Homo sapiens: one gene and its partners. The protein of the gene in region 4 interacts with the protein of the main gene of each other region in a pairwise test. Each region holds a gene or a part of one and is shown on either strand. Other genes may lie near its edges. The genes, in order: POU6F2, SPDEF, ZNF410 and TTC23.

Region 1 (7,040 bases), on a different chromosome or scaffold from region 4:
CACCTACCCAATGGACAGTTCCATAGGCTCAATTCTGGAAGTCTGTGTAGGGAAAGATGGCATGGTCAGCTCACACTCCCATCTTTTATTCAAATATAAGATTTCATTACCACCTACGTTACTGTCTTCTTAGTATATGTGAGGTGACGTAATTAAAGAGAACGAGCAGAGACATATCCTAAAAGAAACGTAAAACATAACTTTTTACATTCTCTGGAATATTTCAATAATGTACACTTTGTCTACCTTCTCAGAACCCTAAATTAGTAGAATTCAAGAGCTAAGTCTCATTACATGTTTTTATTTAGCCCTGCTTGTGACTGCATTATTTAACTTATGAATCAGGGTTGAAGGATTGGTCTGACAATATGAAATACAGAAAACAGAAATTTAACTGACATTAATTACCATGAATTTCTTCTGGTCTCTTTTTCACTAATCTAGATACACTAACTGAATCATGCATTGGAAACATACATCTATGTCAATTATCTTAATAAACAGCATTGAGGCTCATGAAAGAAAATAACAAGCATTTTGTTCAGTTGAGTTTGGTGGCTTGGAGCAAACATAAAGGTTTTCAAGTCACAGTGTGTCTGACTGAGAACCAGCTCTTTACGCCATTCTCTGTCATTCTTACCTCTTTGTTACTAAATAAAATATTGTGATCTTTATTGCTATTTTAATTGGTTTGAGTATTCAATATATAGATGATAAGTATCTTTTCTTGTGGCATAAAGCTACTCTTCACTTTTAACATTACACTTAACCTTCTCTCAGGAGACACTATTTATGAGTTCTTCTGCTCAAACAAATCCTATTTGGAAAATTCTGAAATCTTTTATGTTAAGAGAAATGAAACTTCTCTACTTGTTAGACTGATTGCAGAGACTAACTTATTTTTAAAAGCTAGATCAAGAGAGAACTGGTTAAATAAATCACTGTATATCCATAAAAGGGAGTACTACAGAGAAGGATGCAGATCTATTCATAGTCACATGAGAAGAGGTTCAAAATATTTTTTATATGTAAAAGTAAGTTGCAGAACTCTATGTATAGTATAGTTCTACTTGGGTTGTGTAAGGATTGCATATACATGCACAGAAAATCTCTGGAAGGATATATAAGAAATAGTTAACAGTGGTTATTTGTGGCGAGTGGAATCAGGATACTTTACTTTCCACTTTATATTATTCTGTGCTATTGCAATGGTTTGCCATATGCAGAAATTACTGTTATAATTTTTTAGTAAAAAATTCAAAAATACTCATAGGAGTCTACCATGTAATTAACTCACTTCAATCACGTGCATATAAGAATTGCGTTCATGTACTGTCACTTTTACTCAGATGTTCCACTCTCTGCCTGAACTAGCTGTTTAAATTCTATTTGATAAATAAAGGTAGAAAGGGAGAAAGCAATTGCAGTTGATAGGTTTCAGCACTAGTACAAATGGCAGTACATTGCAAACCAAAGAGCCCCCCTGTTTTTGGAAGGAAATAACCACAATATTCATACGTTTGCAGTTTTCCAATCGACTATGTACTCGAATTCTTACCACAAACTTGATGTTTAACAGCTGCAAAGTACTACTCAGGAGGCTGAGGTGGGAGCGTCTCTTGAGCCCAGGAGTTCACAGCCAGCCTCAGCAACATGGCAAGACCTCATCTCAAAACAAAAACAAAAAAGTTGCAAAGTATTTTTCCATTCTCAACCAAGTTGAGAGGAGTATTTTAAGTAAACATCTGTCATAATTTTTTCAGGTACTAAGATTGAAAACAGAGACAAAATATTTTTAGATTATTAGAGGTTAAATAGTCAAGTATTCCCAAAATGTTTAAAGTATGTCTGTGAGTGTGCGTGTGTGTTAATGAATTAGATTGCTAGACTGCCTCATTTTCATTTTTACTCTAAATTCTTTCGTCACTAGGAATCTAGATATAGGTTTGTTTACAAATGAAAAAAGTTTTCAGAAAAGAAATCACAACTTTAGTTCTTGAATTGAGGATTAATATATTACCTAGGAACAATGTAGGACTGTTTGGGATTTGAGCCATATTAGCCTTCGTTCCCAGAAACCTTCTGAATATTACTACAAACACCTCTTGTATTAGCAGTTCTAGAAATACACCAAGAAATGCACCTAAGAATGTGTAAAGACTCACTTTGTTCAAGAAATATTGAAACAGAGAAAATGAATACAGCAGAGATTTACTTTTAAGACCCTGGAACACCATCTGCTGATATGAACAGAGAGAAATTTTCAAACTTGGCATTCTTATATCACAGCCAAACTTTCACAAAATCTCTTATTTTTCTCAAATTCTGACCTAGGGCATTTCATCCCACAATCATCACTTCTGCCCACCATTCAACCAGCATCTTGTCAAATCTGGCTGCAAGATTAAGTTTCCCGATTCGGAATTCAATATTGTAACCCTAAGGATATAAGATTCAAGCTGGAACATTCTGGATTTTTTTTTAATGGATAAAATTGTTTCGGCCCAAAGACCAGAGTTCGCCCTGACCATAATGATGAATCATCAGGACTGACACTAAGTGAAATGAGTTTGATGTTCTTGTTTTATTTGTGCCCATTAAGCAGCATTTTACATTTGTCCTAACTCTCAACCTTTTGGAGAAAAGGTTGAAAGAGGCTTGTTTTCTAGTATTATTTAAGACTTACAAAATTAACTAGCTGTGTCTGAAGCAAGTTTGGCGTGCCATAGTCCCTACTATTGTGTGTCCAGCTCCATTCTTGCCCATTCTGCCCTTCCAATTTGGAGGAAAAGAACTGAAGAATTAAGAAATATCTACTTTTCTCATATTTCCTCAGTATCAATTACGGCTTCTGGTATCCTTGCTTCTGTCTTGGTACAATATTTACCTTTTACTCTCAACAAAAACCTACTTCCTTTAAAAAAATCTGTATATGAATTCTGCACTGAAAACTAAGCTCCCTATAAATGTTGTGCTTTGTTCTTTTGAACAGGAATTTGCCTGAGTTCTGATCAATGCTAAAAACACCATTTAACAGGTATGTATTCTTTTAAAAATATACCTGTTTCTCTAAGTTTTTAGATGTTAGAGATAAATATTTTCTTCTAAAAATAGTTTTAAATTATTCATCAAAAATCAAAGTCATAAAATATGCAGGGTCAACATCATATTAAACTCCAGAAATAATAAGTACTATTTCACAGCATCGGAGCACTGGCTAACCTCTTGTAAAAACTCTAAAGATTTAAAGAAAAGTTTTCCTTAATATTGAAATTTGTGTACAGCACAAGCACTGTGAGGCCTTTTCTTAGACTTTGTTTTTTAATTCTAGTTTTCCTGTGCTAACGTATTATTTCACTGTATTTTTTGTGTGTGATTTGAATTGCTAGGTGAGATGAGGTAAGCTTACAAAATAACTTAGAAATATAAACTAAAGAAGCAAGTATATTGGTGAGTTTTCTGCTGCCTTTTTGCTTTGTTTTGCTCGAGGTCTTGTCTCTCTTTCCAGTGCCCTTTCCTGCCTGGGAAGCCCACAAAGATTTCGCTTTTCACTTATTACTCATCAAACTGACTCTGGTTCACAGTGGAAAAGAGAAGAAAAGCTGATGGAGAAATGGCAGTGAAGAAGGAGAACAAAATGTCAGAGCAATACTTTTGAGCGACTATATCCTTTTCATTAAAGGTGTCAACACGTTTATTTGCATCTTTGACCCTAGGACTAGGGAAGTGCTGGAAATTATGTGGGTACTTTTTCCCATGGGAAAAATGTACCTCCTGGGTCGGGGGAAGGCTGAAAATAGGTGAAAGTGAGAATACTCAGTTGATCTTCAATTTTTTTTGTCTTATAATTAAAAAAGTGCTGTTGAAAGGAATAGGGTTGCATTTCACCTAGAATCAGTGCCAAGTATCAACAGCTAATGTCTGTCTTTTGAAGAAAGAATCTTTCATACCATGGGGGTTTTAAAGCTACTGATAAAACAAAAAGCTATTTTCTGAAGACCAGCCAACCTGAAAAACAAGTGTTTTAAAACCTAGAGAATTTCCTTTAATGTAAATAATCAAAGATGTTTTCAATTATTTTGCTATTACTTACATACAATGGTTTTACGTTTATGAGAAGTGCTATCCCTGAAATAACAATAATATGATCATTTATAAGTGGGGTGTGGAAAAATAACACAAGCATACAGAAAACCAGGAAGGAATTTTTCCAGTAAAAATTAAGCAATATTCACCACAATTGGCTCACATTGTGGAACTGGGAAGAACAAGAAAATAATAAAAAGAAAAATAAATCTTTACTGAAATGTAGTGATAGTGTTTCACTCGCAACCGCTTCTTCAAATTGAGATGCAGAAGAAATGTGTAAAAAGCAAAACTGGTACAAATCTTGATTACAATTTTGGATCAGTTTAAGACAATATGGCTCAACAGAGCAATTTACATAGGCTAACAGAGCAAACTTGAGTTGGTAATTTACTTTATTGGATACACATTTCACCTACAAAAAAAAAAAAAGAAAGGAGGGAGGCAGGAACAAAAGCAGAAAGGAAGAAAGGGATGTAGGGAGGGAGGGAAGGGAAAAAGAACATAAATCCAGGTTTGAGATTATATATAGAGCAGCTATTATCTCCCAAGTAAAGATTTGGCCATAAATTACAAATTAATTTAGAAGTTGTGTAATTTGGATTTTCTTTTAGCGTTCAAATTAAAGTCAATATTTATCTTTTTGCACATTGTTTCTTCAAGTCTGATCCTTTCATGTTTGCACTTTATGTCCCAACTTTATTTTCTACTCAATCAAGCATTAGAAAAGAGTAACAGCTTGTACAATATCACAATGCAATTGAAAAGTGAAGTTTTTCAGTATTTGCAGACATGTTAATTATATTCCAATTTTTGTAAGCAATAAAGAGAAAAATACTTGAAACTGGTAATATGCAGTTTACATAGCAAAGAAAAGGTCAGTGAAGAAACATCCTTCACTGACCTCTGAAACAAATATTATAGATTTTACACGCAGGAAACTTATTACATGCAAACTTTCTTTTGTAAGCATTTGTATTCTAAAAGTTGCAGCCACCTCTCTGCATATGTTAGAGGTAAGAATAAAAAAGTTTTAAGTTCTTAAGCATTGAAAATGATAATTGAATGGTACAGAGAGTTTCATTAATTGACCTTAGAGATAGAAAAGAAAATTTAGTTTCAAGACCCAAGTTCATCTAATTGTTGTTTAGTATTAACATTATTGGATAGTAGTATTACTATATTGTTAAATTTTACTTAAATGGACAAAATTGACTTTACCATTTAAATGTCTGCTTTAATTTTTAAAAATTCTAAACATAATAAAAATTAAGTCCATCTGGTGAAATGTAAAATGTTAACATAAGACTTTCCTATAAGTATGAATGAAATATTAAGTGAAGTTTTTTAGGTCAATAAACAATACATAGTACAAATTCAATTTTGGTCAGTCTGGAACTTACCAAAAGAATACTAGCACCAGTATGTATAAGAAAGAATAATCCTTAATTAATCTGTATTTTTTCTAGTATACCATCCATCCATAATACCTTGGGGAAAAAGTATTCTCAATAAAATTAAAGCAGTAATAATTTCACACTCCCAAAATACATAAATTTGTTGAAGCAATCTGTCAGTTTCAAAAATACAGGCATTCACACCCACAAAAATGACTTTTTTTAAGAGTATATGGGAATTATGCTTCACATGAGTAAAACAGGGTTAGGTTAGCCCCAGTGTTTCATTTTTATATGTAAGGCACGAATATCAGTCTAAATTGACAGAGGGCAATCTTCAAATGTGTTATGAGAGCCAGTGTCCCCTCTCCCTAGACCACTTGCATCACACATCAATTTGAGCATATTTTAGGTAAGCAAATTATTATTAAATCTACATTAAATACTTTTTGGAACAAGGGATGGTATAAACAAACCTCTATGTAAAATTAATTGTTTTGATGCTATAACGGTGAAATATTTGTGTGTTTTAAAATCTCCATATAAGAAAACATACATGGAGATACTGTTAAGCCAAATGCATGCACACATACTGAGCACTGTCTGAGACATTTGCATTAGTTTTCTGATGTACAACTTTACAACACTTCACATGGTCGAAATGTACTTTGAAAAATAAAAGACCCATTGTACCAGTAAGGGAAATTGTAAACAGCTTTTTACTGCACTTCTAATGCTATTAAAATATAGAATGTGTGGTCTCTTCTCTCTTCTACTAGTACTTTAGCAATGTCAACTGGAAGTGCATCCATGATCACTTTATCCAGCTGTCTCTCTCTCACTCCCAGCAAACTCTTAGATATACTTGATAAATATTTTCATCTAATTTGGTTCATCTGTTGTTTTTATTAACAACTAATTTAATATCCTCTGTTCTGCAATATTTGCAAAAGTCAGTCTATAGACGTGAAGCCAACAGGGACCCTCAGGCCTGTGCATCAGGATGGTGGGCTGCCTAAGTCCTCTGGGGACAGCAGTGCCAGAAGGAGTATTGGACACAGTGACCCGACTGTATGAGATGAGAAAAAACAAAAACAGGAGGTCCGCAGTACTGATGAACTAATCTGTCACTCACAAGCTCAGGTCTGCAAAAAAAAGAAACGAAGCACTAAACATGGCCATAAGAGATGGAAATGCAAGTCTTCATTTCTAAATGATAATCAAACCAACGATCAGAAACTGATTAACTGTGTAATTGAATTGAATTGAAAATCATCCCATGAATAACAATCCATCCTACCTTCAAGGGGTTAGGAAGCTAACTACAGGTAATTGCTATCAGAAATCTGATTTGATTTCCAAAAATTGTGTGAATGAACCAAGTTTCTTCATCTTGATATACTAGGCAGGGAGTTTGTTCTTCCAAGTACTAGACTGCTTAATTGCTTGCTTGGGGGAGGAGAAATCCTAGGGGAAAGGCATATATGAGCAATTTCTACTCTGTGAAGCCAGCGCTGTGTCCTGAGCTGGATCATGGCCAGAAACAGAAAAGTCTAC
Region 2 (6,967 bases), on a different chromosome or scaffold from region 4:
AAGGATGGGGGTTCTCTCCACCAAAATAGGAGGGACTCAAGTCCATTTGAACGACAGAAAAAGGGAATGGCAGCTTCATCCAGGTGTTCCCACGGCGATGTCAGGAGGGCGTCTGGCTCCTCCTCTTCTGGGCTGTCCCTATTCTCCCTGGGGGTAGCAGCTCCTGACTTAACACGTCAAGGCTTGGAAACTCTAGTGGCAAGAGATAATTTGTTATCTCAGTAGGCTGGAGAAAAGTTCCAGGACAGAGTCACACTGAGCCAACTGGGGTTGTGTACTAGACCCCAGATCTGGAAGGGGTGGACATGGAGCAGGCATCGCCCACAACAGATGGGTGGGGTCTGGATGGAGGGCAAACAGGAGGGGGCACATTTAACCTGATGAGAGCTGGCCAGAGGAGGATTAGAGAGGAGTCCAGCCCAGGGAGCTGGAGGCAGGAAGTCTAGTGGACCCAGTGACCTGTTCCAGGGACCCGGGACTTGGCCCTGAGAGGACGTGAGAGTAGCAATAGGGTTTTACTGGGCATGGGGCAGTCATGGAAATTAGGGATTTGAGTTTGAATCTGCTTCCCAGCTGTGACCTTGGGCATGACATTTTAAATGTACAAGCCTGAATTTCTTCACTTGAAAAATGGGCATATACCTGGCCCAGTGGCTCACGTTTTTGGAGGCCGAGGCAGGTGGATAGCTTGAGGTCATGAGCTCAAGACCAGCCTGGTCAACATGGCGAAACCCCGTCTCTACTAAAAATACAAAAATTAGCCGGGCGTGGTGGTGCGTGCCTGTAATCCCAGCTACTCGAGAGGCTGAGGTAAGAGAATCACTTGAACCCGGGAGGCAGAGGTGGCAGTGAGCTGAGACTGCGCCACTGCACTCCAGCCTGGGTGACAGAGCAAGACTCTGTCTTAAAAAAAAAGAAAAGAAAAGAAAAGAGAAATGGGCATAGCAACATCTACCTGTGAGTGTTGCTGTGAGGAGTAAGATGGCATTTGTCAAACACGTGGCCAGGTTGGTGGTCAGCAAGGCCCTGGAATAGGGCAACCAGGTTCATGGAACACTTTGACCAGCATTTTCTCCCTCCTCACAGTAACTCTCAGGGTTCTCTGGATTTGGGAGGTGACTGTTCAGCAGATTTCAGACACTTGCCTAAAGTCACAAAGCTGGAAAATTACAGAATCAGGACATGTACTTGATCAAATCCCAAGCTGGTGCCAAGACACCATGCCCGGTGGATCAGGGGGTCAAGAGGATGTGTGTCACCCAGAGTTCCCTTATTGGGAAAGTTGGCCTTTCCTCCCCTGAAGCCCACCAGCATTGCCTTAGATGGGCATCCAACCCACCTTGGGCACACCACTGATGTCCACCCCAAGCAGCCTCTTGGAGGCTGGGCCTGTGTGAGCCCAGCTGAGCAGATGGGGGAGCCCTCCCTTGCTCCCTCTTGGTGGACCTTTTCCAGCTTCCAGAGGCAACATTTGTTTCCCTACTCCAGGCTTAAATGGGTAGAGACCCTGTCCACAGCCAGTACAGTTTAGCTGGGCCCATCCATTCAGGAGACCCCTGTGAAATGCTCCCTTGGGCCTTGAGTGAGGCCACACCAGTAAGAATTCCCACTTAACAAAAGTGAAAAGTCCATTTCTCTCATAAAAGTCCTAAGGCAGGCAGTCTGCAGCTGGTATGGAGGTTTTACATAATCCTGAGAGACCCAGGCTCCTTCTAGCTTGCTGCCTACTCTACTATCTTGTCCTCATGGTCTAAGATGGCAGCCAGAATGCCAGCTATCACAGCTGCATTCCACCCAGCAAGATGGAGGAAGGATAAATAAGAATGGAGTTAATGGTACATGCCAGCTTACTTTTAAGAAAGATTCCTAGAAATCTTGGCACATGACACTTCTGCTTTGTCATATAGTCACATCTAGCTGCAAGGGAGGCTGGGATAGTCTTAATTCTAGGTAGCCACGTGCGCAGCTAAAAACCAGGCCTTGGCCAGGTACAGTGGCTCATGCTTGTAATTCCAGCACTTTAGGAGGCCGAGGTACAAGGATTGCTTGAGGCCAGGAGTTCGAGACCACCCTGGGCAACATAGAGAGACCCTGTCTCTACAAAAATAAATAAAATAAAAAATAAAAATCAAGCCTTGTTTACTGAGGAAAAGGGGAGAATGGACAGCTATCTTTGACACCTTATCCACTCAATAAACATTTTTTTTTTGAGCTTCGCTCTATTGCCCAGGCTAGAGTACAGTGGCACGATCTTGGCTCACTGCAACCTCTGCCTCCTGGGTTCAAGCGATTCTCCTGCTTCAGCCTCCCAAGTAGCTGGGATTACAGGTGCCTGCCACCACGCCCAGCTAATTTTTTGTATGTTTAGTAGAGACGGGGTTTCACCACGTTGCCCAGGCTGGTTTTGAACTCCTGATCTCAAGTGATCTGCCCACCTTGGCCTCCTAAAGTGTTAGGATTACAGGCGTGAGCCACCGCACCCAGCCTCAATAAACATTTATTAGATATTCCTTGTACTTACCCACATTATAGTACTTACAGTATGATTAATAGCTTAGCATCTCATGAGCATCGAACATACAGGCATACAGTAGGTGCCTGTTAAGCAGTGGTCATTAGTATTAATGCATCAGAATGCTGTGATATAAGCCAGGCTTCTGTGAGAGTGGGGAGGAGGGAGGCGTGGCCACCAGAGAAGCAGGCACAAAAACGCACTCTAGGGGAAGGAGATCCACCTGGAAACGCAGCGTGTCTTTCTTTATTGACCCTGGAGGGCTGGACCATTGGGGATTAGGAGTGGTCGAGTGTACCATTTCAGGACCTTGTGTTACCTCCCCTTCCTCCGCTCCATCCTCCCTCAACCTTCTCTGGGGAATGACTGATAACTGATCCTCAACCAAGGTGCCAGTGACGATAACAGCCAAGTACAGGGCTCCCTGGGGGTGCAAAGTGCAACCTTACGTTGGAGAATGTGGGTATTGGTGAAGGTGAGGGGCTAGTTCTAAAGGCCTTGGGATCCCCTGCAGCCCCAGAATCCTCATGCTCTCGGCAGTTACACAGTTACTCCTGAAACAAGAGAAAAATCAGCATTATCTAGAACTTTCTCCCGTCAGAATGGAGGTAGCAGGTACGTGGAGCCCTTCTGAGATGATTTGGAGAAAGGAAGGCCCAGCCTCCAGGGACAACTCTCAGCCCACCTGGCAGGACATGGAGGAAGCCAAAAGCTGGACTGTGTGGCCCCCGCAGGGCTCAAGGAGGTGGAGGGTCTGGGGCAGCAAGTGCTTGGTGGTGGGTACCTCTGTCCTGCGTGGCATCCCTGCCATCACCCTTTGGGGCTATGGGAGAGCAAGTTGCTGCTGGCTGGCCCCCGATTACGGGCCTGGGAAAGCGAGCTAGGAGTCCTTCCTCACCGCCACTGTGTGACAGGTCTGCATGAGGACCCTGTGGGGCACAGAGAACACAGTTCCCACCAGGTCGTGGTTGGCCCACAAGCCTCGGGATCCCTCCCCAGGGTTCTCTGAAGCTCTCTCCATCCCTGGCCTGAGTAGCCAGACAGCACCTCCTCCAGGAAGCCCTCACTGATTTCCCTAGTTGGTGCCCACCCTCAGTGCCCCCTCAGTCCTCCATCTGGGCATGGGTGGTTCTGGATCTCCACTGCTGCTCACTTGTCTGTCTCTGGCCCTCAGCTGATCCATCTTAGAACCCCAGCCCTGGACCCACTCGACGTATCTCTGGCGCCTTGCACGTAATATGAGCTGAGTGGCTATGCAGCAACCAATGAACGAGTGAATGAGCGAGTGAATGAATGAGTCCCCTAGCTGTCAGGGCATGGATCCCCCAGCAAGGAGGGGGAGACCTGCAAGGGTTAATCAGGAGCCTGCCTGTGGTCTGAGGTAAGCAAGGAGTGTATTTGTTCAGGTAAATAAGGAAGGATTACTTATAATGGGAAATCAGGCCCTGGCCAACTCTTCATCTCGCGGCTGTCTGACTTCCTCCCAGCACATTCCTGCACTCTGCCGTGTCCACACTGCCCCACAGACCCAGTCCTCCAAGCCTGCTGCCAGCTCCCTGCAAGCCCCTCAGGTTGGGCCTTGCCACGGTGCCAGCAGGCAGCCCTGGGCTGGGGGTAGGGGACTCCCTACAGGCACGCAGCCCTGAGACCTCAGAGGGCCACCCCTTGAGGGTGGCCAGGCCCCCAGTGGCCAACCTGAGTGCTGCCTCTGCCACCAGCCCTGCTGGCCCCTGGTTCCGCTGGCCCCCCAGATGCCTGGCTGAGACACGCCAGTGGCCTCAGCTGCCCACACCTCTTCCCGGCCCCTGAAGTTGGCACTGCAGCAGACAGCTCCCTGGGCACCAGGCAGCTAACAGGTGAGTCCAACAGGAGGTGGGGGTACCCTGGCATGGGGTCTTTCCCTGCCAGCTGGGGGGTGGGCGACTGCAGGCAGGACTTGGAGGGGGCGCACTTTGCCAGCTCAGAGCTCATCTCCCAGTCATCAGTGACCCTGTGACCTGGATCCCTTTACCCTCAGAATTCCTTGCCCCCTCCTCATGCTCCCCAGACTGCCTCTCTGGGCCAACTCTACATGCTGGGTGAGCCCCCTTGCCCGGCAAGGCCTGGGGTCCCCCACACTGAGCCCAGTCTGCCCAGCCTGAGGGGAGGCCGCCGTGCAGATGCAGAGCCCCGGCCCCTGAGACCCAGCCAGTTCTGCTTGGCTGGAGAAACACAAGCGGCTTGCTGCTGCTGCCAACCCAGCTGCTCTGCTGAGGAAAGGGTCTCCCTGGTGCCAGGCCACCAGTGGGCAGGGGCTTGCTGGAGCTTGATGGGTCAGGGCTAAGTCTAAGGCCGGGTCCAGTTCGGGACAGGGGAGACAGGTCCAGAGCCCAGTAGCTGGGCTGGGCAGGGATGGGCACAGGAACCAGGGGGCTGGGGTCACCGCTGAGCACACACTCTGAGCCCTTGGACACTGGGGGAAGCTGAGAGCCTTGGGTCCTGGTCTTGGCACACAAGGAAAGCAACAGTAGCAGTACCTCGAAGGTGCTCATTTCTAAGATTTGCCAGATTTCTGCGGTGGAGAGAGGAAGTGGGTGGTGGGATGACAGGGTGGGAAGCTGAAGGGCCTGGGCGACTGGGTGCCCCTGAGGCTGGTGGAGGTGTGTGCGTGCGTGTGTGTGCGCGGAAGTATGTGTGTGTGTGGTGTGTGCATGTGCGCGTGCGTGTTGCATGTGCATGTGTGTGTGCGTGTGTGTGCATGTTGGGGAGGGGCAGGCCAAGATCCCTCACCTCACCTATCAGCTGGGGCCGCCCAGCAGCCCACACCCAGGCCATGAGCCCCGCGTAGCCTGTGTCCTTTATGATGGCCATGGGCTTTCTCCTCCTCCTCGGCCAGGGCTGGGACTTGCCTCATTTCCTGCCGCAACCTCCCCAATAAAGCTGCATCTCCCCATCACCAGCTGCTCAGCTGAGTAACAAAGCAAACAGGCGTCCAGGCTGCCCCAGGCCCAAGCTGGTGGGCAGGGATGGGGAGGAGACGCCCCACCAGACGGGCAGGCCCAGGCCATGGTTCAGCCAGGCCAGTTGGGCTGAGCTTCCCTCCACCCACCTGCAAGAGGGGCCAGAGCCAAGGACCCCCAGCTTGGAGTCCCACCACCCCAAACTCACAGACAAATGGTGGGGGGCATTCTCGGAGCTCCCAGGCAGGTGGGGCTGTGTGGAGGAGGTGGTCTCACTGCGTAGGGGACCCACCCTCGCCTTTGAGAGGCTGACAGTGCATGTACAAGCATTTCCTCTGAGTGAGGCCCCGTGGGGGTATCCAGAGCTGAAAACTACCAGACTTGCTTATTGCACACTGTCAGTTGTAAAACACTTTGGTTTTCACAAGGACCCTCTGAATTCGATAGGGCTTCTCTGTCAACCAAGTCTGAGGGAATAGGGCTGCACTCAGTAGGTGCTCAGTCGATGCTCAGAAAGTGTGATGCTGGCAGGAAGTGCAAAAACCGGGAGAACCCACTTTTTACCACTGAGGTCGTTGTGAGTATAAAGTGAATAGCCCTGAAACCGTTAGAGCAGTTTTGTGCTAAATGACTTGTTGCAGCCTGAGTATAACCCGGGGAAGTTAATTTAGTCTGACAGGGGGACACAGACCCTCAAGGTGGAGGGCAAGAAGGAACAGGTGAGGTCCCGCCATGTGGGACCGTGGGCGGGTCACTTTTCCTCACTGTACTTGCAACACCTTGTCTGTGAAACAAGGTTAGACAAGGCTATTGCCTGTTAAAGCAGGCTTCACGGAGGAGACAGCCTGGAGCAGGACCTTGAAGGCTGTGTAGGAGTTGGATTTGCCAGCCGGTCTCCTGGGCGTTGGGGGGTGGTGGCGGGTGCGGGGGCCGGGGGGAAGTGGGTGGGGCAGGAATTCTTGGTTCTGGTTCCTCCTAGAGGGCAGGGAGGGTGGGTGAAGCCTGCAGCTGCCTGGACTGGGCTAGAGAACAGGACAGGGCCCCAGCCTCCCTCACCACCATCCTCAGCTCCCCCCAGACTCCACTCTCTCGCCCACTCCCTCTACTCCCCATCACCTTCCGCTTCTTCCTTTGCTCCCCGGCTTCCTCACCCCATTCCCTCTCTCTTTCCTCTTCTCCAGCTGATCCCCTCACCTGTGCCCAGGGCCCCCCTCATGTACACTCAACCCATCATAAATGATTTCCATTCACCCTCCATCTCAATCTCCACAACCCCTTTAAGACATACTCTTGACAGCCCATTTAACAGACAAGAAAAATGAGCCTCAGAGGGGGCTGAGTCACTGGCCCCAGCCCCAGAGCTAGAGAGCAGAGAGTCAGGGATCAAACCTTTTCTGGGACCCTCCCCTGGTCCCCACCCCCACCCCGTTCATGCCCCACCCTGTGCCCCCAGCCAAGCGAGTGGCCTGTCAGGTGGAACAACTCTTCCCAAAGCAAACTTTGCACAAGCCGAGTT
Region 3 (7,040 bases), on a different chromosome or scaffold from region 4:
TTGTATTTTTAGTAGAGACAGGGTTTCACCATGTTGGCCAGGATGGTCTCGATCTCTTGACCTCGTGATCTGCCCACCTCAGCCTCCCAAAGTGCTGGAATTACAGGCGTGAGCCACTGCACCCAGCCTTCTTCTTTTCATTATAACCTTTATACCACAGTAAGCTGTTGCATCATTCAAATGACTCTGCATCCTATATTGAATATTCTCCATTATTCTCTAATATCTTTGGGGGTACCCAGGATTACAGGGTTCTGGGCATACATGTTAATGCTTTTGCCAGGACTTTTCTTTTTATTGTTGTGACCCATTGTCTTTGCTTATATTTAAAGTTTTTGATCTTGATATCATTGGTTCTTTCCTAAGTCACTTTTTCTGGTAACTGCTTTGGAATGAATCATACATATCTCACTTACGGAGCCTTCCTCTTTCTCCTCCATTTTTCTTGTCTTCATTTTTCTATTTTAAAGCTTTTATTATGGAAATTTTCAGAGTACAGTGAGAGAGAGACTAGTATGATAAACCCACGTCGAAGTCGAAGTTACGGCTGAGAGCGGCAGCTCACACCTGTCTCCTAACTTTGACTTTTTTTTTTTTTTGAGATGGAGTCCCACTGTCGCCCAGGCTGGAGTGCAGTGGTGCGATCTCAGCTCACTGCAACCTCCGCCTCTCAGGTTCAAGCAATTTTCCTGCCTCAGTCTCCTGAATAGCTGGGATTGCAGGCACCCACTACCAAACCCGGCTAATTTTTGTATTTTTATTAGAGATAGGGTTTTACCCTGTTGGCCAGGCTAGTCTGGAACTCCTGACCTCAAGTGATCCACCCGCCTCAGCCTCCCAAAGTGCTGGGATTACAGGTGTGAGCTGCCGCACTTGGCCCTAACTTTGACAGTTAACTTTATGCCATGCTCAGTGGCCCATGCCTATAATCCCAGCACTTTCGGAGGTGGAGGCAAGTGGATTGCTTGAATCCAGGAGTTCAAGACCAGCCTGGGCAACATAAGACCCCTATCTCTACAAAAAATACAAAAAAAAATTAGCGGGACGTGGTGGCATGTGCCTGTGGTCCCAACTACTCGGGAGGCTGAAGTAGGAGGATCACCTAAGCCTGGGAGGTTGAGGCTACAGTGAGCAGTGACTGTGCCACTGTACTCCAGCCTGGGTGACAGAGTGAGACCCTGTCTCAAAAGACAAAAACACAATTAACTTTATACTGTTCTTGTTTTATCTCTTTCCTCCTTTTGTTGTTGTTGCTGTTTATGATGGAGTATTTCAAAGCAAATTGTAGGCATGTCATTTCTTCTGTATATATTTCAGTATATGCCTCTAACAAGATACAATATTAAAAACTATAATATCTTTACCACTTCAAACAAAGATAACAATAATTTATTGTATTCTCTAATAGTCTATGTTCTTTTTTTCCTCCCCCTCAAAAATATCTTATGGTTGGTTTGCTAGAGTCAGGATTCAAACAATGTCTGTATATTGCATTTGTTTAATACTTCTCTTAATTCTCTTTATAATAGTCCTTTTTTTTCAGTATGGTTATCTATTTAAGGAACTGGGTTTTTTGTTTTGTTTTGTTTTTGTTTTTGTTTTGAGACTGAGTCTCACTCTGTGGCCCAGGTCAAGAGTGCAGTGGCGTGATCTCGGCTCACTGCAACCTCTGCCTCCCAGGTTCAAGCAATTCTCCTGCCTCAAGTCTCCCAATTAGCTGGGATTACAGGCACCTGCCACCAAGCCCCACTAATTTTTGTATTTTTAGTAGAGACGGGCTTTTACCATGTTGGCCAGGCTGGTCCCAAACTCCTGACCTCAAGTGATCCACCCACCTCGGCCTCCCAAAGTGCTGGGATTACAGGCGTGAGCCACTGCGCCCGGCCAGGAATTGGGAGTTTTTGTCCTAAAGATTTTCCCACATTCTGGTTTTGGCTGATTGACTCCTTTTGTTAATATTAATTTCTCTATCCACTGTATTTCCTAAAAACTGGTAGTTACATTTAGAGGTTTGATTAGATTCAATTTTTCCCCCTTGGCAAGAATATTTCATAAATGGTGCTCTTGCTTCCTATTACATCTCATCAGGAGGCACATGACAATCAGTTGATCTTAAGATTGACTGGTAGGTTATGTAAAGGTTTTGGCAACCATTACTGATCATAGCCTAGATCTATTTTTCATTAAGGCCTGCAAAATGGTGATATCCTAATTCTCTTGTTCCCTCTGTGTTTATTATGATTTTTTTTTTTTTTGAGGTGGAGTCTTGCTATGTTGCCCAGGCTGGAGTGCAGTGGCACCATCTCGGCTCACTGCAACCTCTACCTCCCGAATTCAAGCGGTTCTTCTGCCTCAGCCTCCTGAGTAGCTGGGACCACAGGCAGGTGCCACCACGCCCGGCTGTATTTTTAGTAGAGACGGGGTTTCACCATGTTGGCTAGGCTGGTCTTGAACTCCTGACCTCAGGTGATCCACCCGCCTCAGCCTCCCAAACTGCTGGGATTACAGGCATGAGCCACTGCGCCCGGCCTAATTGTGATTCTTTTATACAAGAAATACTTCTCTCATCAACCATAGGGTTGCCCTGAAATCGTCATTTCAGGAAAACCATCTCGTTTTTCTTTTACCTAGTACACATTATTATTCGAGCAAGCCAACCCACAGCACCTAGCCTTTTCTTTTTTATATTTGAAACCTCAGAGCTTTTCTCTCCTGTATTGGTAAATATCTTTAAAATTCTCCACGTTACCCAAATAAATGCCAGATGTATGAAAATTTAATTCATTCAGCGGCTAGTTACCACATACCTAGTATGTGTGGGGCATTCTGCAGGGTACTAGTTATACAATAGTAAACAAAATATAGTCTCTGCCTCAAATAGCTTATAGGCAGAATTAGGACCTTCATAACTATATATATGGTGCTGGAGTTGCACTGTACAGTGAGGTTAGGATGGGAGAAGTGACCAATTAATCAACCGGCAATTTTTTTTTTTTTTTTAATTTTTTAGACGGAGTCTCACTCTGTTGCCCAGGCTGGAGTGCAGTGGCACAATCTCGGCCCACTGCAACCTCTACCTCCTGGGTTCAAGCAATTCTCATGTCTCAGACTCCTGAGTAGCTGGGATTACAGGCGGCCACCACCACACCCAGCTAATTTTTTGTATTTTTGATAGAGACGGGGTTTCATCATGTTGGCCAGGCTGGTCTCAAACTCCTGACCTTAGGTGATCCACCCGCCTCGGCCTCCCAAAGTGCTGGGATTACAGGCATGAGCCACTGCGCCCAGCCTAAACTGGCAGTTTTTAAGTGTAGTACGTTCCAGTCTTGGGAGAAGTCAGAGAATATGTTTTAGAGTTTAAGTTGAGATGGGAGGGATGAATAGACATCATCTTGATGGAGAAGTAGGAGTTGGAAGAATATAACAGGCAGAAGGACAGCAGTGTGTACAAAGGTAGAAGGTAAGGGAGTAGAGGGCCTCTGTGGAACTGTAAATAGGGTTGAGTGTGATGGGACATGGGATGAAGAGATGGGCTGGAGAGGAAAATTGAGAGCTGGAAAGATAAGCTAGTCTCTTGAAAGGTCTTACAAGGCATGATTTTATCCTGGGGGCACTGAAGAACCACTGCATGGTTTGAAGTAGGGTATGACGTGATCAGATTTGTGTATTCAGAATATCCAGTAATAGTACATTTGTTCCCTAGAACCTAGGCACAAGTCTTGGAATTGGCCTCAGAGCATCCATGTATAATAGGTGCTGCCCACTTACAGCCTCAGGGAGACAGCATAACACAGGCTGCCTAAAAAACGAAAGACCTGGGTGTGGTGGATCATGTCTATAATCCCAGCACTTTTGGAAGCTAAGGTGGGAGGATCACTTGAGGCCAGAAGTTCGAGACAAGCCTGGACAACAGAGCAAGATCCTGTCTCTACAAAAAGTTTTTTAAAAAATTATCCAGGCATAGTGGTGCATACCTGTAGTCCCAGCTACTCCAGAGGCTGAGGCAGGAGGATCAACTTGAGCCCAGGAGTTCGAGGCTGCAGTGAACTATGATTGTCCCACTGCACTCCAGCCTGGGAGAGATCCTATCCCAAAAATCAAACAAAAAAAGGAAGTATGGTCTTCACTCCAGGAAGGCACAAAACCCAGTTTCATAATGGAAGCCCAAAACACTTAGAAAAATATTAACAACACAAAAGGGAAAGTGCTGTCCTGGATGTAGCTCAAAATCCTGCACTGTCACTTTTTCCTCATGGGTTTTTGTATATTTACAAACATACCCTCTGTCTGAGCCTCACTTCTTTTGTGTTTTCTTCACTTTTAGCATTATTCTCCTCCTCGTATCACAGGCATTTCCACTGCTTATCCCCTCCTTTTCTTTCTTCACTAGTTTGGGTCCTCCAATACCTTCAGTTTTTTTTCAAGCTGTGAGGCCCTCAGGGTTCCAGGCTTAGGCCTCTTCCTCATCCAAGGTCTAGGTAATAACTTGCTATTTCTCCAGTGAGTGAGGAATGTTGATTCCTTAAGAACTTTCAGGTGCCAGAGAAGGTGAAGGCTATTTGCAACACATGTCCGTTTCACCTTTTTTGGAGATCACCAAGCAGTATGGATCAAAGTCTACTGATGAACTTGTACTTCCTGTAAATATGCTCTAAAAATAAAAATAGCTTATCAAGAATATCAGAGAACAACCAAATCTGTTATCAGAAATTTTCATGAGAGGCTGGGTGCGGTGGCTAGCACTTTGGGAGGCTGGGGTGGGAGGATCAATTGAGCTTAGGAGTTTGAGACCAGCCTGGGCAACACAGGAAAACCCCATGTCTACAAAAAATAAAATAAAATTAGCTGGTCCTAGCTACTTGGGAGGCTGAGGTGAGAGGATCACTTGGGCCCAGGAAGTTGAGGCTGTAGTGAGCCATGATCTTGCCACTACACTGCAGTCTGGGTGACAGAGCCAAACTCTTTAAAAAAAAAAAAGAAGAAAAATTACCATGGGAAAAATATCAGAAACTACAAGTCACCTCTCTGGTTCAGGTGGACAATCTCTATTTTCCCTCATTATTGTGCCACATCTGAGAATTAGATGGAGGACTCATTGCACAGGCCCAACTGGGAACCCCAGGGCTTTTGGGCTGTCATACTTACTAAAGGTCATTCTAAATGGGGCTCCATATTTACATTGAGTTCACATTCTTGAACTCAAGAACCAGTATAAGAGATTCCCAGCTAGTTTTGACTACCTCTTAGAATGCTTTCCAAATCAAGGCACAAATAGAAATTACAAATTCTATAATATTTCTCATAAAGTACCTTTGCTAAGTTTGACTGCAAAGATCTGGATCTTGGCCTCCATTAAAAACACACTATTCTTAACTTTCCTGCCACACAGCATCAAATGGAATATGTGGTTTCTTTAAGGTTTAATTTTTTCTTTAGATTTTGTTTAAAAGTCTTTAAATTCCATATAATTAAACTCTTAAAAAAAAGTTTTTTTGGTGGATACAGTGTCTTACCATGTTGCCCAGGCTGATCTCAAATTTCTGGCCTCAAGCAATCCTCCTCCCTCAGCCTCCCAAAGTGGTGGGGTTATAGGCATGAGCCATGGTGCCCAGCCCAATCATTAAATTCTACTGTATAAATTACCTTCATCCAAATTAGGATCACCAAGTAAATACATCTCAAGCTGAAGAATTTATTTGATTAGATTTTAATAAGTTGTTTTTGTTCTGAATTTTACTGAATTGTTCCCATCTCATTTTTGTGTGTCTGAAAACAGTCTCAGTCTGTCACTCAGGCTGGAGTGCAGTGCAGTGGCATGATCATAGCTCACTGCACCCTTGAACTCCTGGGCTCAAGTGATCCTCCTCCCTCAGCCTCCCAAGTAGCTAGGACTGCAAGCATGTACCACCATGCTTAATTTTTAAAATTTTCTTGTAGAGACAGGGCCTCACTGTGTTGCCCAAGTGGGTCTCAAATTTCTGGTCTCAAGCAGTTCTCCTGCCTCAGCCTCCCAAAGTGCTGGGATTACAGATGTGAGCCACTGCACCCAGCCTCATTTTGTTTTTATATTAAAATGGAAGCCAATTTCATTATTTCAAAACTCCTTTGAATAGAGCCTTGTGTATAGAGTAGAATGTTAGTGGTAGTTGCCATTATGCAGGAGTCCCTTAGGCTTATCATTCTTTTAAGCCCAAGGAACCCCTAGATCTTTTATGAGTGGGTTTCAGCTCTCATATAGTACTTATAAAGGAACAGCTCCTCTTCCTATTTCCTTCTCCTACTTGAGCCTTCAGCCTATCCTTTGGCTGACACGTATAAGATTTTGGTTCCACCATTTCTGTTTTCCCTGTAAGTTAGAGATTCCTCTGTCACTGACTGATGAGTAGGTAACTACACAAACAATAGTTTGGCTTATAGACTCAGAATATTTGATTGCCAGAGTTAAAATGCCAGCCTTATGACATGGCTAAAGTGCTGTCCCAAGGCCACAGTGACATCTATCAGTCCGTGCATGTGTTTGCTTTGGAAGTAGATAGCCTTCATTCACCCCTGTAGTGCATTCTCCATCCTCCACTCTTAATACTTTTTACTATGAATTATTTTTTCTATAATTCAACTGTAACCTATTCTAGATTTGCTTTCAATCTTTTACAGTTACTAAACCAAGGAGATTTAACTGAAAGACGGACATGAGCGTGGGTGCTGACTCCTGGAAGAGCAACTCTATCTGATCTCAAAATGCGTATACTGGGAACAGGATGCCTTAGCCCACAACAGAACCAGAATGAATCTTTGAAGGCACAAGACTCTGCTTTTGCCACTCTTCCTCTTTCCTGGTATAGAAGATGGATGTAGGAGAGCTTCTTTTCTAACTACCATCTGATCAGACAAGGAATGAAGCAATGACTGTGGGCTGGGAAACTGTACCTACCTCTCTTCCCACTGCAAATTTCTGGGATAGACCAAAAGTGAATTTGATTATGTGTTGGCTGAAGTTCTTCATTCTGACTGTTGAGGGGAGGTTTTCCTTTGAAGAGTTT
Region 4 (5,799 bases):
GTAATCAAATATACACTGGACAATTTGTGGTAAAAATGTCATCATCACAGCCTGAATGACTAGTGGCAGTAGGACACCACCAACCATCCCATTTGGGATGGAGAGGTTTCTTGGGATGTGGTACTTTGAGTGCTAAAACCAGGACTGTCCTGGGCATACCAGGACAGTTGGTTACCTTATAAGTGCAAATTGGAGGGTTAACCCTAAGGCATGGCCATTTCTTAGGGGCTTGAAAAAACTGAGGTAGTTTGAGACAAAGGAATAGCTAGATATCTTTACCCGTTTGTAACCTTGTAGCCCTTTACCAAAAATAGAAAAACACAAGTAGCTATAGTCTTCCTCTCGTTGAAGTCAACAGAATTAACAGATGGGAGACATTGGAGGGAACATTCCTAAATTCATTGCTTCCTGGGGTGGGGTGGGGTGGGGGCGCTAAATTTTAAAAATGTGTTTTAGTTTTTGTGATTCCAAGCTACGCTTCAAGAAGTACAGAAAGGAAGAAGTAACATCAGAATTCACATTTATTTCAAAAACTCGGCATGGACTCTCAGTTCAGGCTGCTGTAACAGAAAGCCGTAGCCTGAAAGGCTTAAACAACAAACATTTATTTCTTACAGTTCTGGAAGCTGGGAAGTCTCAAGGTGCCAACAGTTTCATTTCCTGGTGAGGGCTCTCTTCCGGGCCTGCAGACGGCTGTCTTCTCACTGTGTCCTCACATGGTGGAGAGAGAGATCATCTCTCTGGTGTCTCTCCTTATAAAGCACTAATCCCATTCATCAGGGCTCCACCCTCATAACCTAATCACCTCTCCAAGACCCCACCCCCAATACCATCCCTTTGGGGATTAGGGCTTCAACGTGAATTGGGAGCATATGAACATTCACCCCTTAGCTGACTCCACCCATGTCAACTAGATAGGACACACGGTGAGTAGTGACATCTTACACGTTTTTAGCACACTGCTGATGTCCGACAGGCCTGGGTCTGGGACCAGTGTGTACCAGCAAGCATGGTCTGTGGGGTCAGCTGTCACGCTCCTGAGGAAGACAATGGTCCCTGCTTCTCTCCACCCTGTCGTGGCTCTACTGAGTTTATTTTCCCCATCAATACTGGAGGTGGTGCCCTGCACAAATGGCCCCAGGGTGGTTTTGATGTCCCACTGGGGGCTGGAGGGGAGGGCCCTGTGCTGCAATCTGCTGTCATAGCACCAGCCTGCAGCCTCATGGCCACAGTCTGTGGGACCAGGGGAGGGAGGGGAAGGGACATCACTGCCCACACCTGCACCCCTACCCCTGGGTGTTCCATCCACCTCGATCTGGCACTGGATCTCCTCGTTGACATCGTGGAGGAAGGCACTCAAAGCTTCCTGTTCGACTTTGCCATCCTCACACGACTATGGCCTCCTTCCAGGGGGCTGAAGACTGCTGTGTACACGATAGTGTGCCAACTCAGGAAGCAGCTCCAGGTGGCATCCAGGTTTGTCCTGCCTGCAGTGGAGGCCACAGGAGGGATGCGAAGCAGCAGGGAGTCTGCGGTCTTCCCCCCGCAGCCTCCGGCTAGCCTTTCTTTTCACTCCCTTACACCTGCCTCCTGGGCCCCAGGCCAAGTCAGGTGTGTCGGCCTCCTGCCCCTCCTACTGGGCTCTTTCTCAAACCCCTTTTCAGGCTCCGAAGAACTCTGAGGCAGGCTGCACTTTGAAAACACATGCTGACAGCAGCGTGTTCAGGTTTCCCTTTATTAGCGTTTTCTTCTCATGTTATTCTCAATCCCTATTAGCCTCCTATAAGAAAGGACTTCCTGAAGTTCACTGTCCAGATCTAACTCCACACCTATGCAAGGAGCTGTGTGTACAAGCAGATGCCGGGCTGACTCCTGCACAGGGCGCACTGAACTGTTGAAGAGAAGTTTTTCAGCCACAGTAGTGCTGATGGGTAAAAATTCTTGTTGGCAAGAAAAACCACTTAGGTGATAGAAAACTGCTTTATAGCATATATCACCCTGAAGGGCATCCACTGTCAAAATGTGGCCCACGGGAGGCTTATGGTCTCACTGTTGCATGTTGGGGCCAACAGTTGGCCTTGGAAATCTGTATCCTGACTGTTGAATTCCATTTTCTAGGCGGAGGTGATTTGTACAGCACCCTAAATGACAGTGCCCAGGAATGTCCTAGGCTTTTTCAGGGTGGGGGCCTCAGTCTGCTGTTGTGCCGGGCCGGGCCTTCCCCAGCAGGGTGTCCTGAGGGATGCTGGTGCAGAAGGCCACTTTGGCTTTTGATGCCTGCCTTGGCTTCGAAGCAACCTTGGGGGCCCTGCAGACAAGCAGAGGGTGGGGTGAGTGTGGTGCCCCTCAGCCCCCCACACCGTTCCCATCCAGCCTTTGCTGCCCAGCAGGTGCCCAGACCCATTTATGAGAAGACTTGGTAGGGGCTATAAATGAGAGGAGAATTGTAGCACAGAGCATAAAACATGAGATGTTTTCCTCCCATCTTTTATTTTTTTAATTTTTTTTTTTTCAGACAGAGTCTCACTCTGTCACCCAGGCTGGAGTGCAGTGGCCCCATCTCGGCTCCCTGCAACTTCCGCCTCCCAGGTTCAAGCAACTCTCATGCCTCAGTCTCCCGAGTAGCCAGGATTACAGGCACATGCCACCACGCCCAGCTAATTTTTGTATTTTTAGTAGAGACGAAGTTTTGCCATGTTGGCCAGTCTGGTCTCAAACTCCTGGCCTCAAGTGATCCACCGCCTCGGCCTCCCAAGGTGCTGGGATTATAGGCATGAGTCACCTCGCCTGGCCCCTCCCATCTTTTAAAATCACCTGTGACCATCCTCACTGAGCTGAGGCCCTCAACCCTTAGCTGGCTTGGTGAGCAGGACATGGGTGAGGAGGATGGTCAGGGTTGCACTGGAGGCCTCCCTGGCTCGCCTTCCCTGCCCTCAAAGGGGATGGCGCCCTGCTGGCCAGGTTGTGTCTGCTCCGGGCTGTGGCCCTGTTTCCCTGAGCAGACTCAGGCAGCCCTGGGGCTGCTCTCTGCGGACCAGGCTCTGTGAGGTAGGCCCTCCACGGCAGAGCGCTGGGCCTCTGCTCGGGCTGAGAAAGGACGTAGGGGCCAGCCTTTAAGGTCAGTCAGTGAACCTTCCGGCTCCAGTCCTGACGGGCATCCGAGGGCAGAGGGAAGCCGGAAGCAGGGCTGCAGGAGGCCACAGGGATTCCCGGGGCCCTCCCCCTGCAGCAGGTGCCTTAGCCTGCAGGGGCTGGTCTGCAGGAAGACAACATCCAGCATATATTTCTGACTTAAAGGATGAATTATTTTTAAATACCTGGGCAAGGAAGATCTTTTACAACTCGGGTTTCAAAGGAACTTGTCCTTTATGCAAGTTATGGGAAGTCAGCAAAACATTCCAGAGAAGGTTACACAGAACCTTCTAGAACCAGCTTTCTCTTGAGATTCTGAATGGAAAGGGAATGAGATAGAGAAAGTGTGAGGGACGCCAACTCACGTGGACAGCATGCCCATGGCCTGCTGGGTGGCCAGAGTCCTTTTGTCCTGCGGTCCATATAAGAGGGTCTGGATCTGGAGACACTGTAGAACACCAAGCAGCTATCATGAGGCTATGGAAGTGTCGCTGAGAGCAGGAAACTAAGGTCTCCCTTGAATGAGAGAAAGATGACCTCATTCTTAGGCCCTGCTGTGATGGAATTAGCATGCTCCTGGGATGTCTCCTAGTGACTGACCTTTGGTTTGGATGTTCTGAGGGATCTAGGCAAAAGTGAACAGTTTTAGCACTATTTCACAAAACTCTCTGTGACTATCTGTATGCAAAAAATAGATTTAAAAGTAGTATTTTTAAAAATAAAGGCAAGAACCTTGGTACTGACCAGAGGATGGGCTCCAGTTTCTATTTTTAAATGTGGCCCTTGTTATAGCCTGGAAAAGATTTAAAAAAATAGTTTTGTTTTTTTTGTAAACACATACTCTACTTTTATTAATATATAGGCTGTCTATACTCTTGACTACACAGCAATGTCTTAGTTATTAGGAACCAAATATTCAGCTTATGGACTACCCAGGGCTGGCTTTGGCTTGATTTCTCCCTTCTGCTTACTTTAAGTCTTGCCATTTGATTGCTTGTAGTAGGCTAGGGCAAATCAAGGAGAGGAGAAAGATTAAAGTTGTGCCCAAAATGGCCAAAATAATTTTGAGAAAGAATGAGGTGGAGAGGTGGAGGAACTTGCTTTACTGAATGCCAAAGACCCTTTTATTTTTTTAAATAAAGTAATTAAGACAGCATGTTTGTCACCCGGGGTAGACAAAAAGACCAGTGGAACAGGGCAGAGAGCCCAAGCCTTGACAGATGACAGAAATGGCCTTGCGGGATTGGTGAGGAAGAGGTGGGCTAGTCAATAAATGGGTACTGGGACCGCTGGTTTTCCAAATGGAAGAAAATGGATCACTACCCCAAATCAAACACAAATATTAAGCTCAAGAAAGATTTGAAGGACTAAGTGTGAAATGCAAAACTTGGAGCTTTTAGATGAAAATACTGGAAAATATATATATATATATTTTTTGATGGAGTCTCACTCTGTCGCCCAGACTGGAGTGCAAGTGGGGTGATTTTGGCTCACTGCAACCTCCACCTCCTGGGTTCATGTGATTTTCCTGCCTCAGCCTCCCGAGTAGCTGAGATTACAGGTGCCCGCCACCACACTCAGCTAATTTTTGCATTTTTAGTAGAGATGAGGTTTCACCATGTTGGCCAGGCTGGTCTCAAACTCCTGACTGCAGGTGATCCACCTGCCTTGGCCTCCCAAAGTGCGGGGATTATAGGAGTGAGCCACCATGCCTGACCGGAAAATACGATCTTGAGGTAGGGAAGTATTTCTTAGACAAGATCTAGACAAAGCAAAAGTGAAAGACTGATAAAATGTAACTATGTGAAAACCTAAAATATTTGTGCACCAAAATTCACCATAAGCAAAGTAGAAAGACAAGCCACGCTGAGGAAAGATTCTTGCAGTGCACAGAAATGAGAAAGGTTTAACATTCAGAATACATGAAGAATTCCTATAAGGTAATGAGAAATACCAAACCAAACCAAAACCTCTCAATAGAATAACACTCAAAAGATATAAACAGATTATTCAAAGAGTTGAAATCTGATGAAATAAACATGCTTAATCTCATTAACAACCAGAAATACAAACTAAAACCTCAATGAGGTAGGTACCATTTCACCCACCAGACTGCAAAAACTACCAAGTTTTGTTAAAGATACAAAGCAACAAGAATTCTTTTATATATTGATAGTGGGTATTCAAACTGGTATAGCCCCTTTGTAAAACAATTTAGCAATATTTAGTAATGAATATGTAAACTGTGATATGTATATATTATATATGTATGTGATATATAAATGTTTGATATATGTATGTGTATATATAACCACATAGATGAATCTCATGATTACAAAGTCAAGGGGAAAAAGAAAACGACAGATGAATGCATATAATATGTATTATAATTTAATATGAAGTTTTAAAACATGCAAAACAAAACCATAGTAAAATAAGAAGAGCATGGGAATGATATCAAATTTAAAAAAGTAGTTATCTGGGGATGGGGTAGGTATAGAGGGGACTTCAACTGGATGGGTCATGTTTTATTTCTTATACTGAATGGTGAGTTCAAAGGTCTTTGTTATGTTATCCATACTTTTCTGCATAACAAATGTTTCATAATATATTTTTTAAAAATCGGATGAATTGTGCTACATAAATAGCTTGAGTAAAAAAAAGTGT

Evidence for each region.
Region 1: the proteins of TTC23 (region 4) and POU6F2 interact in binary tests that used the Homo sapiens proteins (3 or more experiments, as listed by UniProt).
Region 2: the proteins of TTC23 (region 4) and SPDEF interact in binary tests that used the Homo sapiens proteins (3 or more experiments, as listed by UniProt).
Region 3: the proteins of TTC23 (region 4) and ZNF410 interact in binary tests that used the Homo sapiens proteins (3 or more experiments, as listed by UniProt).

Annotation. Positions count from the first base shown.
Region 1 is NC_000007.14:38,980,874-38,987,913, reverse strand, and holds part of POU6F2 (POU domain, class 6, transcription factor 2), read right to left. Parts: exon of another isoform or gene 6,408-7,040; intron 3,665-6,407; exon of another isoform or gene 3,509-3,664; intron 3,038-3,508; exon of another isoform or gene 2,993-3,037; intron 1-2,992. UniProt on the Homo sapiens protein: Probable transcription factor likely to be involved in early steps in the differentiation of amacrine and ganglion cells. Recognizes and binds to the DNA sequence 5'-ATGCAAAT-3'. Isoform 1 does not bind DNA.
Region 2 is NC_000006.12:34,553,330-34,560,296, reverse strand, and holds the start of SPDEF (SAM pointed domain-containing Ets transcription factor), read left to right. Parts: upstream 1-3,967; 5' UTR 3,968-4,368; intron 4,369-6,937; exon of another isoform or gene 6,938-6,967. UniProt on the Homo sapiens protein: May function as an androgen-independent transactivator of the prostate-specific antigen (PSA) promoter. Binds to 5'-GGAT-3' DNA sequences. May play a role in the regulation of the prostate gland and/or prostate cancer development.
Region 3 is NC_000014.9:73,924,849-73,931,888, forward strand, and holds part of ZNF410 (zinc finger protein 410), read left to right. Parts: intron 1-2,258; coding exon of another isoform or gene 2,259-2,380; intron 2,381-6,654; coding exon 6,655-6,693; 3' UTR 6,694-7,040. UniProt on the Homo sapiens protein: Transcription factor that binds to the sequence motif 5'-CATCCCATAATA-3', and is specifically required to silence expression of fetal hemoglobin in adult erythroid cells.
Region 4 is NC_000015.10:99,135,820-99,141,618, forward strand, and holds the end of TTC23 (tetratricopeptide repeat protein 23), read right to left. Parts: exon of another isoform or gene 3,926-5,799; coding exon of another isoform or gene 3,877-3,925; exon of another isoform or gene 3,758-3,876; coding exon of another isoform or gene 3,581-3,757; coding exon 3,498-3,580; exon of another isoform or gene 3,448-3,497; coding exon of another isoform or gene 3,409-3,447; exon of another isoform or gene 2,309-3,408; coding exon 2,191-2,308; coding exon of another isoform or gene 2,142-2,190; 3' UTR 768-2,141; coding exon of another isoform or gene 618-767; 3' UTR 504-617; downstream 1-503. UniProt on the Homo sapiens protein: Participates positively in the ciliary Hedgehog (Hh) signaling.